4 linked regions of the Homo sapiens genome follow. The protein of the gene in region 1 interacts with the protein of each later gene in a biochemical or structural test. Each region holds a gene or a part of one and is shown on either strand. Other genes may lie near its edges.

Region 1 (3,500 bases):
TGAAACCCCATCTCTACTAAAAATACAAAAAAAATTAGCCGGGTATGGTGGCGGGTGCCTATAATCCCAGCCACTCGGGAGGCTGAGGTGGGAGAACTGATTGAACCCGGGAGGCGGAGGTTACGGTGAGCTGAGATGGTGCCACTGCACTCTAGCCTGGGTGACAGAGAGAGACTGTCTCAAAAAAATTAAAAAAAAAAAAAAAAGATTTTAGAAGTTATAAAACATTGGACACACGTGTGTTAACCAAGAAAAATAAAATAAAACCAAAATAACAATGGTGAGGACATGCAGGCTCCTGTTAAGAGATGCCAGCGGGGATCAAAAGCAAAGCCCTGAAGCCAGTCTTTATCCAAAAGAAAGTCAGGTAATAGGTATCAAAATAGTCCTGGTCTTTGGGTCATAGGACTAGGAAGTTAGTTCCTCCTGAGTGAAGTAAACATATATTTTAAAAACTCACAGAAAGGGACGCCTCCTGAGGGCCTCAAATCTAAGCTGGACAAAGTGCCCACTTAGATGTGAATACCCCTTTAGCAGTCCAACAGGGGCCTTCAGACTGTGAGATGCAGGCACAGCAGAGCCACCCAGAAGCCAGGCTCTTCAATTAAGGACAGTGGCATTATCAGCAAAGCACCCAAGCATGCCTCTGTGGACATCTGTCCTATTGACGTTCAATGAAGTATGCAGGGTCCTCCCAGACCACTAACTAATTTCTGTCTCAGGGGTCACATTTGAGCAGCCAGAGTCTCAAGCCACAGAGAGAAAGATGGAGCAGTCCTCAGATCAGGCCAGAGGCTGGGCCACCTTAGGGGAGCGGGAGCACCCACAGGTGAGGTTACCTCACAGACGCCACATCGCCGGCGCTTAAAGGCGTTCTCCTTGTCTTCTCTGTCATCCTTTTCAATTTGCTCTGCGAAGAAAGTATCGAAGATCTGGTAGACCAGCTTGGTGGTGGTGGCTTTCGTGGGTCCCCTGTCCTTCTCCCTGGTAGAATGCCTGATGGTCTGCCGCCTCGCCTGGGCTCGCCTACGGGAGAGGTTCCAGCATCTCAGAGGACTGGGACAGAGGATGTGGGCCATGCTCTACCCTCCCCGGTCTCCAGTCTTCACTCTGGTCCCTGCCGCATCCTTACCTCTGTCCCAGCGTGACCCCAGCCAGCTTGATCAGGTCCCGCATGCAGGGTGTCAGGAAGATGGGCTGCTCATCACTGTCCCCGGCCTCGTCATAACTCTCCACCTGCTCCACCACAAACTGCGCGTGTCGCAGGAGGGAGTCCTCTGTGAAGCGGTTCAAGTTGAGGCCAGAAGGAGGAACCGTGGTCTTGAAAGAGAACAGGTTTCTCTCATGCTTAAGCCAAACTGGCCTAAATCCAACTGAAGAACAGTGTCTGCTGGTTCTGAAGGCAAGTTTCCAGTGGGAATCCCGGATGCTGAGGACCCTCGATCTCTTACCTCGATCTTGTTGATCAGGTCCTCATAGGTCGAGTCGGAATTGCTCTGCAGGAACTCCACCACAATCTTGCTGATGTAGATCTTCTCCTGCATCAGCCCAAATATGGGCGCATACTCGGGACTGGGATCCATCAGAATGTATTCGGCAAATGCTGGGGTGAACAGAGGAGGTGTGGAAAAGGGGCTGGAATCTGATGGCGCCTACAGTGGCCACAGGGCATGGAGGAGTCTACCAAACTCACCCAACAGTCTAAAAGTCATCCCGTACCCAAATGTCAGAAACATAGGGCACAACACATCATAGCTGGCTTGTTCTGAAGAAGCCTGTCTGAGCCAGCCAGAGAGCGAAGACTAGCTGAGTAGGCCTTCATTGAGCTCATCTCTGGTGTTTGGAATTCAGTCTGGGTTTGGGTTGCAAGAATAAGACCTGCTCTTTTTTTTTTTTCAGGGGAGGACAGAGTCTTGCTCCGTCACCCAGGCTGGAGGGCAGTGGCGTGATCTCGGCTCACTGCAACCTCTGTCTGCTGGGTTCACGTGATTCTCCTGCCATAGCCTCCCAAGTAGCTGGGATTACAGGTATGCACCACCATGCGTGGCTAATTTTTGTATTTTTGGTAGAGAGGGGGTTTCACCATGTTGGCCAGGCTAGGCTGGTCTCGAATTCCTGGCCTCAAATGATCCCCCCAACTCGGCCTCCCAAAGTGCTGGGATTACAGGTGTGAGCCACCATATCCGGCCAAGACCTGCTCTTACAACTGGAGAGTCAGTTCCAGAGCCAGTCATAACTAACACAAGAGGCTACCCCAACTGAACCTGCTAAGGTTCCCAGTCACATGGCCTTCTGCAAGCCTGCTGAGAATTCCCACCAGAGCCCCGTCAGCCCCCAGGAAGGAGAACATGAAGGCCCCTTTCAGACCCCGGCCAGCCTATGATGGGCCACACACTTACAGGTGCTGAAGCCGATGAGGGCCTTTTCACCTCCATCAAAGCCAGTGATCCACCATTCATTTATGGGGCCAAGATTTTTGCCATTAACACCACCTAGAGCAGAAAAAGGAAATGGACTAAAGGCTCTGACTCACATCCCAAACCCAGGAGGCGCTCTAAGCGCCCACTCAGCAGACATCCCATCAGCCAGGTCGGGTGCTCCTCAGTCATCACAATGACTTGGCCTACAGCTGCTCCTGGCACAAAGTCTCACACCCTAACTTTAAGAGGCAGCAGCAACTCCAGCTGACTATTGCTTCATAAGTATGTTTTTTATTTATACATATATATAAGTATATATGTATACTATATATATATGCTATATATTTTTTTTTAATAGAGGCAGGCTCTTGCTATGTTGTCCAGGCTCGTCTCAAACTCCCGGGCTCAAGTGATCCTCTGGCCTCAGACCCCCAAAGTGCTAGGATTACAGATGTGAGCCACCCTGCCTGGCTGTTTTTAAAGTGTGCCCCAAACATAATCCCGGACTATTCCTTACCTTCAAGAGATGGGTCATCATCATAGATTGGTTTTGCTGAACCAGAAAAGAAGAGTTCGATATTCTTCTCGATGAGGCCGGTGTCGATGGGACACAGGTGACCGTGCTTACAGTACACACTAGACAGGAAACAAAGCACATGCTTACCAGCTAAGCCGTGAAGGCGGGTCTTCGTGCAGACTTCAGATCAGGCACGAGGCAATGAGAGAATGTACAAGTCTGACACTCTTTTTTTGTTTGTTTTTGAGACAGAGTCTTGCTCTATCCCTCAGGCTGGAGCGCGATGGCATAATCTTGGCTCACTGCAGCCTCCACCTCCCGGGTTCAAGTAATTCTCCTGCCTCAGCCTCCCGAGTAGCTGGGATTACAGGCCTGAACCACCATGCCCGGCTAATTGTTGTATTTTTAGTAGGGACGGGGTTTCACTATGTGTAGCAGGCTGGTCTCAAACTCTTTATCTCCAGTGATCTACCCACCTCAGCCTCCCAAAGTGCTGGGATTACAGGCTGAACCACCATGCCTGGCCCCGACACTCATTTTTTGGTTGCGGGAACACTGGATTA
Region 2 (3,500 bases), on another chromosome or scaffold:
AAGTATGCACCACCACGCCCGGCTAATTTTTGCATTTTTTGTAGCAATGGGGTCTTGCCATGTTGCCCATGCTGGTCTCCAACTCCTGAGCTCAAGCAATCCACCTGCCTCGGCCTCCCAAAGTGCTGGGATTGCAGGAGTCGGCCACCGCGCCCAGCACAATCCAGTTACTAAGCATGCAAATCCACAAACATGCAGAAGTCCAGGCTGAAAAGGCAGTTTATGGCAATTCATTTCCAATCAAACCCACAGACTTACCTAATAAAATCAATCTAAAATAAAGTAAAGTTAGTATATACAATGCCACCTGAATACAGGTTATCAGTGCCTTACCTCTCCACAGTATTCTGAGATGAATTCATTTTTCTGCACAGGATCTTTGATAAAAATCCCCCAGCCTGCCACGTCAGATGGTGCCAGCAATAGATGCTAGAGAATAAAACACAATCACATCATCAAAAAAGGAGGGTGAAAATGGACTGGGGACAAAGTAGACTACAGAATGAAAACAAAAGCTATCACTGTAAATCCTCAGACCTGTTTGTTCTAAGGCAGTAATTGGGCACACAGCTTCAGTCAACGTGAAAGCTGCTGAGAATGGCTATGAACATTATGTTTTCCTTATACAGCAGATAAGAATCTCTGTCTTACAGAAAACCTTTTGGTGGTGTTGGTCCTCTGCAATGACCATCGTTCAGCAAGGTGCTCTAGGCCTGCTGCACTTTTGGCTTCCCTGTATCTTCAGCCCTTGATTTCCTCGAGTAATTCACTTTCAACCTGAATTTAATATAAGGACACCACCAAATCACTCTTCCTCTCCATACCTTTCCCTCTACTTTCCCCAAGTGATTCTATTAATAGTTATTCCATTTTCAGCCCCAGGACACCCCCTGATTCTTCACTGGCGTTGGTTCCCTCTGAAGCCCATAGCAGCTTGGCTTTGGATTTGTTCTTCCACCCCACCTCCTCAGGATAACACAAGAAACTACCGGGAGGTGTTATCATGATCTTGTCAGTCCAGTAGTCTATTTTCAGCAGAAATGCCAAGATGATCATTGCTATAAATTATGTATTTAGGGATGTGTTCCCCAACATATGCCAATTTTTCATCACGGCTCAGTATTATGCTTTCATCCAAAATTTTCTTGTGACCTTTACAAAGGCTTCCTATCTATTCCTATTCTGGACCATCTTACCACTCACCTGTCATGTGAACTTCCCAAATAGCCTTCTGATCAGAAACTAAATTAGCTAAATACTGCTATGCAAATGAAACCCAACTGGTAAAAGGTATCTACATAGTTTAACATTTTTAAGAGTTAAAAAATGTCTTACAAAGAGGACATGTCAGTATGAATAGAATTGCCCACTTTCTGAACAAAGTGAGGAAGGAGTACAATGGTAAGTTGTTTGGGGGGGAAATTGAGATTTTTAGGTCTGAGCAGGTATGCCATCGGAAACGGAACCAGAGTCACTGTGATCCAATGACCTAAATGGACATATAACTGCCTAGAGTAAAATCATCTAAATGTCTAACAGAAAAGAAAAAAGTCAAAGCTAAAAACAAAAAGCCCACCACCCTGCACAACTCTCTGCCATAAACACAGACTTTGGTTCAAAGACACAAACAAAACCAAGAGAACTTCAATGTTTTGCCTGGAGCAGAATTTCTGGTAGAAGGGGACTTGCTGGTAAGAAGTGTGTTCTCAATTATAAATAAATGGTCCAACAACAAAGATATGTCTACTCTACACCCCACATACACACACACACACACACACACACACACACACAGAGCATAAGAGCAGGTTAATGGGAGCCTGGAGGATTTGATCTCCTGCTCCTTTACAAGTCTTGTGACTTTGGGTTTCCTTACCCGTAAAATGGGGGTTAACACTTACTCCTCACTCACAGGGTTAGGAGAATCAATGAACAAATCCACTAAAGCACTCACAACAGTGCCTATTTTTACATGCTTAATAAATGTCAGCTATTATTATAAAAAGAACTGACTGAAGAAAGAACTTATCATCTGCCCTAAAAAAAAAAAAAAGATACGAAATTTCCCAAATACATGCTGCTGAAGTGTCTTTTGCTCAATCATTACTTCCTGGCTGATAGAGTTAACTCACCTACATACAATTCCCCAGACTAAAAATATATAGTTCCTAGCTGGGTTTTTTTCAAGGTTATTAAACAAACAGGAAGTAAGTCTATAAAAACCTGCCATGGGAAATTTCATCTTTTACTCTACATAGCAAGGAATCTATAAATACTCTTTGATGAGAATGAGTCTATATTTTGATAGAAATCACCATTTATTTGCATTAAGGATACTAGATAAACTATTAACTAAAAGACAAATTCAAATAATCTATTAAACAGGTAGAAAAAATACCTCTTATTCCTAAATCTGATACCATGAATGGCTACTTCTCAGAATTTGCTGGTTTCTCCTACTATCAGAGTATGGTGCTCTATATAAAACTGAAGAGACTGCCCAAGGGTGCATTACCCAGAGAAAATTATGAACACTTTCTCATCAGTTGCACCTTTCAAGGATCACTTTTACTTTTTGCCCCAGCTAAATCATCTAAGGCAATCCTGACATTTGCATCACTAAATAGCTAACTACAAACAATCTTCCAGAAGTGACTTGTTGCTCACCTTTTTGGAGCCCCGCTGAATACTGCAGTTCTTGCAGGACACATTTTTACTGTCCCAATGGTCAGCGGCTCCACAAGTAAGACAGAGGTCAGGGTCACACTCTCGGACAGCCAGGTAGCACGGGCACTGCTTGGTGTTGCACTGTGCTTTGCAGCGGCATCCCGGAAAGCGGTTTTGACCTTCAGAGAGAGGTTTGGAGGTTCTTCACTCATCACCGTATGCAAAAACTTGCAGAAAGATACGTGGCAAGGGCTGTACTGGGCATCTCACTGACTCTCAACCCTCACAACCACCTTATTACCCTACTATATAGACAAGGAAATGGAAGTATTAACAGCGAAGTTATAGCTGTTTGCACTGAAAAAGACCACCACTGAGTTGTTTTTCCATTTTTCATTTGTTAAATAGTGTATATATTTAAAGTCGGTGTGAATAAAGGGTCTGGATGGAACAATATCCATGGTCCTTGACCATTCCAATAGCCCCTAGTTCTAAACACTCCCTTAATACCCAAGCTTCATGTGCAGTCTCATTAAACAATTATAAAAATCTACTATGTTTATGCTACATTCCTTTAATCTGAAGACTAAAACCCTCCTAACTCTGACGATTTCTGGTGCCCAAAAATTATTTGGGTAGCTCCTTCTAGATTCCTCTTACAATCTGTGCCAACTTTAATACAACTTAATTTAAATGATCAAAGAAGAAAAAAATAAAATTCAGGTTCCTTTAATACAACTTTGCCTGCCTCACACACACAGACACACAACACCCAGGCGACTGACTGGCCACTGGCACAGGGCCAGGTATGGGGCTCAATAAATACTTGTCAA
Region 3 (3,500 bases), on another chromosome or scaffold:
AGATATCAATTATATGGTCAACCTTATCTTTAAAATCCAGCAATTCTTGAACCATGGTTTTATCTTTTTCAGGATTAATTACAATAGTGCTGCCAAATGCCTAAAACAAAAAATTACCACTTTTTACTGTAATCGAATTGTCTACAATGAAAACAATCCCCAAATCATATTTTAAGTGGCATATATATTTAAAGATCTTTAAAAAGTAAGATAAAGCTATTTTTAAGATGGAATCTTGCTATGTTGCCCAGGCTAGTCTGAAACTCCTAGGCTGAAAGGATCCTCCTGCCTCAGCCTCCCAAGTAGCTGGAGTTACAGGCATGTACCACTGCACCTGGCAAAATAAAGCTGATAGTGAAATGAGGACAAAAAAATAAAGTGCTAAATATCCACACTGTTAACCACTCATCTATAATCACAAAAATAGTAAGCAATGATCACTGGGCATATGATATCATAACAGGGTATTATTAGAAGCCTCTGGGATCTTTTCCTTATTTTTAAAGAAGTCAGCTTTCAACTTCCTTAAAATGGCAATCTGGCTTTAGTGTAAGATTGAAGAAAGGAAAGAAATTTGGGGTTCAAAGTCTTTTTCTACATTTACTGCTTTAAGTGGTAGAGACAGAAATTATGTCAGCCATCAATCAGGTTTTATAGCTGATATGCCACACAGCTACCATTCTCAGGTTGACTGTTCTCAAAATTCCCATTACTTTTTAAACAAATTTAAAATTCCCTTAAAAGAACTGGATCAAGTCCGGGTGTGGTGGCTCACGCCTGTAATCCCAGCACTTTGGGAGGCCAAGGCGGGTGGATCATTTGAGTTCAGGAGTTCAAGGCCAGCCTGACCAACATGGTGAAACCCCGTCTCTACTAAAAATACAAAATTAGCCAGGCATGGTGGTGCATGCCTGTAATCCTAGCTACTTGGGAGGCTGAGGCAGGAGAATCACTTGAACCTGGGAGGCAGAGGTTGCAGCGAGCTAAGATCGTGCCACCGCACTCCAGCCTGGGTGACGAGAGCAAAACTCTGTCTCAAAAAAAAAAAAATTGGATCAAACAAGAAATGCTTGCCAATATGCACTCTTGATGTGTAGATAAGCCATAAGAGAGAAAAATCACAGGTAAATTGTTAATACCTTGATATATTCGATCCACTGCTGCAAAAGAACCTGAACTCCACCTCGAACTCTACTGAAGAGCTGATACAGAAGAGACAAATCTTGAATTCGGTTTTCATCAAGGAGGTTATTTAAACCTGTATTTTAAAACATTTTGGCATTAAAATATAGTGAACAAAAAAGTGAACAAGATTATCAGACATTTTAATAAAATTTGAGTTATAATCATTATTGTGATACTGGTTTGAACTATGACTAGTCTGTATGTGAGTTGTAATGTAAGATTTCCTTTGAATTAAACCCAACCATCTTTCTGGGTAAAAACTAAATATAGAGACTTTAGTCGCTATAAAAATAAAAACAGGCCAGGCACGGTGGCTCACACCTGTAATCCCAGCACTTTGGGAGGCTGAGGCAGGAGGATCAATTGAAGCCAGGAGGTCAAGACCAGCCTGGGCACAACAGTAAGACCCCCTCCCCCTCTCTATTTTAATTCAAAAAGTTAAAAAAATTAAAAAGAAAAAGAAAAATGGTTAACTCCATAATGGTTTGTGCCATTTAGCATGATAGATTAGAGGCAAAAACAAACTTATAAAAACTGGCTTACATAAATATACATTATAAATACCTCATATATGTAGTAGCCATATTATGTACATAGTTATATTTCAGAATACTGGATATAGCCTGTGATATATCAAAAGCCATGCATAAATAGGTCAAATTTAAATGAGGCTCTAATAAATATTTGATTTCCAGGATGAAATAACAGTATAACTGCATTAAATTTCTAAATATATAAATTTTTATACAAAAGAAAATATTATTGGGGAGAAAGGTAAGGCTTTTACCTATTTGCGGCATTCTCAAAGTAAAATGTAGGGTATACTCTAAATTCACTTGGGATTAGAAGTGCTTGGTTTGACATGCCATGAACAACAAAAAACCCTCACCGCTTTAGTGTAAAAAGGAATACCTTTCCTTACTGAAAGCTTACATATTAAGTCAAGAATTTCCCACTTTTTTTCTTTTATTTTATTTAAAGAGACGAGAGTCTCACTATGTTGCCCAGGCTGACCTCAAACTCCTGGGCTGAAGCAATCCTCCTGCCTCAGCCTCTCAAGTAGCTGATACTACAGGCACATATCAACCACTGTTTTTTTATTGGTATTTGTGGATCCCTCTCTTCTAGTTCCTGTATCTTTCAGATAAGAAAACTGGCACCTCCAGGAAGTTTACTGTGATTAATAAGGATTGTGTCCATCCTCAGAAATGCAGCCACATGCTATCAAACTTTTAAAAGGGCAACATCTTTAAAAATTCCCTACTAGTTTGCCACTACCATTTAAAAAGCAATCTCTTATTTACAAATTGCCAATTACCTTTCTGAAGAATTGCTGTTAAGTGTTCACCTAGAAGTTGTTTTTCTACAGTAGCAATTAATGACTTCCTACAAGGAAAAAAAAAAAGGTTAGTATTATTGACGTTTGACTTCCAGAAAATGTAAAGCCTCTCCTGAGGGGGGAAAAAAATCAAATAGCTCATTTTATGTTGATTTCAAGATTCCTATCCTATGTATAAATTTATTGGTGCTCAGAGTTACTATACTTTATGCCTAAAAGAAAAAGACATAAAGGAACTGACAGGCAAAAATTTTAAAAAAACACTGCATATTTTAGAATTTGGTTTACATAACGAAATAAATATCTCCAAGACCTTGCTGTAGTCGGCTTTTTCCAAGTTTTGCTACTTTTATTAGGAAGGTAAAGAAGTACTACATACAGAGGCCCCTCGACTGGCAATATTAATACTTAGGAAAGCACAGAAATAGGGGAATCCACTGAATTTTAATTGGCCTGAAGAGTTTAAAGGTCACATCAGCCTCTAGTATTATTTCTAAATTACCTTCTAAACACACACACACACACACACACACACACACACACACACCCCTAATAATCGAATCCTTGGATGAAAACTAATTAACTAGGGAAAAGAATAACTTGAAGTTTGTATTATGAAAACAACTGTTAACACTTCAAATCACACCTGAAAACAGTTACTAACATGTTTAGGATGGCTAAAGTGCTGCAAGTGATTTAACGACAGTTTAAGACTATTAAATTCAGCATGTGGTACTTACTGGGTGGTCTGATCTAAGTAAGTAATAAGTCTGTCTGCTTCTTCTTCTAGACGTTTGTTAACATGATGTAGATATTCAGGAACCTACAAAGATAGTTTTTTACATTATTGTTTTCCTCCCCATAAATCATTCAGAAAATGTCAAGTCCAAAAGATCCTGGAAGTGGCCCTGTCAAATGTGACAGGGTAGAATCATATGTAAAAATTTATAGGTAGAGTTTATGATCCAGAATTCTG
Region 4 (3,235 bases), on another chromosome or scaffold:
TCAGTAATACTTTCGCCCTCAAAACCTTTAATGGCTTAAGTAGGTTCTCAGGTCAGCCTCAGAAAGTTGATACCAAATGTGGTCTGCAGTCTTCAGACTTGAAAGACCTAGCATCCCAGAACAGATTTTCAGTTAACCCAGCCTTTGCATCAGATGGATTTTCACTATCCACCACTTCCTGTTCTCTCTCAAATCCCAAACTCCTGGTCCTTTATCATAGGACATGTCACATCCTTCTTAGGCCCTGCCCTGCCTTTTCTCCATGTTTTACTTGCTCAGGCCTCTAGCCTAGAATGGCTGAAATAGTTTTTGAAATGCTTGGTGGTGATGCATCACCTGCTACGATCAGCACCATCAGGGTTTTGCAAGTACTGGTCTGGTGAGACTAATGTAATAAACCAAATGAAGAAATGTAGTATGAGAAAGAAAGCATCTAATACTATAGCATTCGAAGCTGTACAAATTCTGTAAGACTTAAAAATTATATACCTTAAACAATGTAAGTTAACAGAAAAAAGTCAAATGACAATTTTAATAGACTTTAAAACAGTGTACAAGTAAAAAACACTGGTTTTGTATTTCAAAAGTTGAAGGAAGATATCCAGTCATTAAACAGTCTACAAAACATATGCCAGTAAATTACATAAAAGACTATGTACAATATAAAAAGAGCTGAAAACAGTCTTCACTGTAAAAATAATTTAAAACAAACTTTTCAATTTAAAATATCATCTATAGCACACAAACATCATGCAAATGGAAAACTAAATATACTGCATTCTTTAGTGTAGCCAAATAAATTCAGATTGAGACATCTTATAAGTAGGGAAATGGCCATTCAATACGATTTTTTTCTCTGGCAGTAATGGTCCTAGCTGGGTGTTTTATGCATAAAGAACAGCTATATTTCAAACCCTTTTTATTGTAATAAATACTAAAGCAACAGAGGAATACTTTATTAATTTAGGAGTGATGTTCAAAAATGGTCTGAAAAATAAATGCTTACTGTGCAATTTCATAAAGTATGAACTTCTTGAAAGACTAGAAGCTTTTGCAGCTGAGAAAGTTGATCTCTAGTTTTAAGGCAGGCTAAGCTTTTAAATAAAGATAAATTATAAGAACTAGTTTCATTCATTAACTATTCTGCTATTACAAGTTACATCATCATGTTCATCTCCATAATACTAGGGCTAGCAGTTTGGTATTTAACACCAAATCCTCCCAATGGGAGACATGTACTTTCTGGCTGAATTACAATTAACATCTTATTACTTTGGAACTGTATAATCAGGGGCCTGTTGCTCTCCTCATTAATGGAAAACAGCAGTCCAAAATATTACACTCTCCCCAGTAGAAGTACCATTATTATAGATTCAGAAAGGCTTTGCATATTCACATTTTGGCAGTTTAATACTTGTGGAAAAGATCAATGCAAGCTCTACCACAGTGATAGGTATTTAAACAACAATGGCAAATATTTCAAAACTAAGGGGATCCAGGCAGGCACTAATGTTTCTAAAGCAACTGAAACATTTCCAAAGCATTTATTTGTTTTTCAGGTTAGTTTTATGAGCCAATATAGACATTGCTACATGTCCACAGGAAGTACAAAAGCCATCTTCATTTGAACGTAAATACAATAATCCTGAAATTCTTAGCACCAAGTATTACTTTTAAAAGTAAAGACAACCGAGTGCTCTCCCCACATATTGTTGACTTCCTTCTACTCACACTGCATGTCATTTGAGATTTTAAAAAGTTAGCTGCCACAGTTTTGGAAAATGCCAGTGTTTAAAAATAATTGTGTTAAAGAATCAAAAGTTTAGCGTAACAGATTTTGAGTACTTCAAACCATTCAATGTTACAAAGAAAAGTGAAAATACCATTCTTTGGTCTAGATTAGCTGTTCCCTTTACATTAATTTAACATTCCGATGGCTTTTTGAAAACTTTAAAAATGTTGAAACTCACTAGACAAAACAAAAAAAATTATATATACACATATGAATTTATCATACAAATGAACCTTTAAAAGAAAGTTAGTCTTGACCAACAGCTGATTGAAGATACTTAGTACCTTTTTTTTTTTAAAAAAAAAAAAGTTAGTGTTGAGTTTGTACAAGTACAGAAATAATGAAGTTAAAAATTATCCATGAAAAACAATCTATTTTACCAACCTATAAATATTACACCTTTCTGGTTTCCTTGCTCTATCGAGTTCACAAGTAAACATTCATTTTGACATGCTAAAGTTCCTAATGCTGGTGGAACAATTCCTGTACCTGCACAATTATTACACTATGATTTGTTTGATGGATAGTTCATGTCTGTTACTTCCTGTTTCACAGATATAGCTTCATTAATTGCCTCTTGATCATCTCCATCAGTCCCAAATCCAGCTCCTCCAGCTCTCTCTGGAACATCAGGCTCATCTTCTAAGCCATTGTAGAATTCTTCAATTTCACTTTCATCCTCCATGGGTTCTTCTAAACTTGGACTCTGGCATGTCCCACTATCACTGTTACTGCCACAAGAACTAGAGGATAAGACGTCATCTTCAGAGTCTGAATATACCTCAGCGCCATGGAAAATGTAACGATTTGGTGGCAAAAACAGATACTGATTACCTGAAATACAGTAATAAAAATGTTACTTTCAGTTTTCTAACACTAACTCAGTCTGAGCAGTCTGGAATGAAGTGTGGGTTCCAGCTCTGCCTTTATTATAAGTGTCCTTATGAAAGACTACTATTAGTGTTTAAAAACAACTGGGAGGCATGGTGTGCCTGCAGTCCCAGCTACTCAGGAGGCTGAGGCAGGTGGACTGCTTGAGCCCAGGAGTTCAAGGGCCAGCCTAGGCAACAGAGTGAGGCCCTGTCTCTTAAAAATTAATTAATTAAATAAATACAAGCAATACACTTAGTCCTGGGTTCAAATCTTAGTTCTGCCATTTATTGTATCTTTGTAAGTGTACCTCTGTGCCTCAATTTCCTCATCTAGAATATGAAATAAATTTTCACAACCCTATGAAGGAGGGAAGTGTGAAAAATGTAGAAAACCATATTCAATAAAGGTTATTTCACCAATTATTTTAAAAAGATTTGATGAAAATGAAGTATCCAGCCCAGCCTACATTAGATACCCAATTTGTGTTAAGTAGCTTCTCTAAAGTACACAGGCTTTTAAAGCATCTTCATTAACTATTTTAACTTTTTTCTGATTATAAACCTAAAATAT

What was found. The genes of interacting proteins can lie anywhere in the genome.
Region 2: the proteins of DNMT1 (region 1) and EZH2 form a complex in vitro, tested with the Homo sapiens proteins (one study listed by BioGRID).
Region 3: the proteins of DNMT1 (region 1) and CUL4B form a complex in vitro, tested with the Homo sapiens proteins (one study listed by BioGRID).
Region 4: of the proteins of DNMT1 (region 1) and SIRT1, one has a biochemical effect on the other in vitro, tested with the Homo sapiens proteins (one study listed by BioGRID).

What each region holds. Positions count from the first base shown.
Region 1 is NC_000019.10:10,153,454-10,156,953, forward strand, and holds part of DNMT1 (DNA (cytosine-5)-methyltransferase 1), read right to left. Parts: intron 3,057-3,500; coding exon 2,938-3,056; intron 2,493-2,937; coding exon 2,400-2,492; intron 1,604-2,399; coding exon 1,452-1,603; intron 1,321-1,451; coding exon 1,133-1,320; intron 1,027-1,132; coding exon 840-1,026; intron 1-839. UniProt on the Homo sapiens protein: Methylates CpG residues. Preferentially methylates hemimethylated DNA. Associates with DNA replication sites in S phase maintaining the methylation pattern in the newly synthesized strand, that is essential for epigenetic inheritance.
Region 2 is NC_000007.14:148,811,292-148,814,791, forward strand, and holds part of EZH2 (histone-lysine N-methyltransferase EZH2), read right to left. Parts: intron 2,847-3,500; coding exon 2,668-2,846; intron 430-2,667; coding exon 334-429; intron 1-333. UniProt on the Homo sapiens protein: Polycomb group (PcG) protein. Catalytic subunit of the PRC2/EED-EZH2 complex, which methylates 'Lys-9' (H3K9me) and 'Lys-27' (H3K27me) of histone H3, leading to transcriptional repression of the affected target gene.
Region 3 is NC_000023.11:120,540,463-120,543,962, forward strand, and holds part of CUL4B (cullin-4B), read right to left. Parts: intron 3,348-3,500; coding exon 3,265-3,347; intron 2,572-3,264; coding exon 2,504-2,571; intron 1,259-2,503; coding exon 1,140-1,258; intron 101-1,139; coding exon 1-100.
Region 4 is NC_000010.11:67,915,656-67,918,890, reverse strand, and holds the end of SIRT1 (NAD-dependent protein deacetylase sirtuin-1), read right to left. Parts: intron 2,627-3,235; coding exon 2,298-2,626; 3' UTR 501-2,297; downstream 1-500. UniProt on the Homo sapiens protein: NAD-dependent protein deacetylase that links transcriptional regulation directly to intracellular energetics and participates in the coordination of several separated cellular functions such as cell cycle, response to DNA damage, metabolism, apoptosis and autophagy.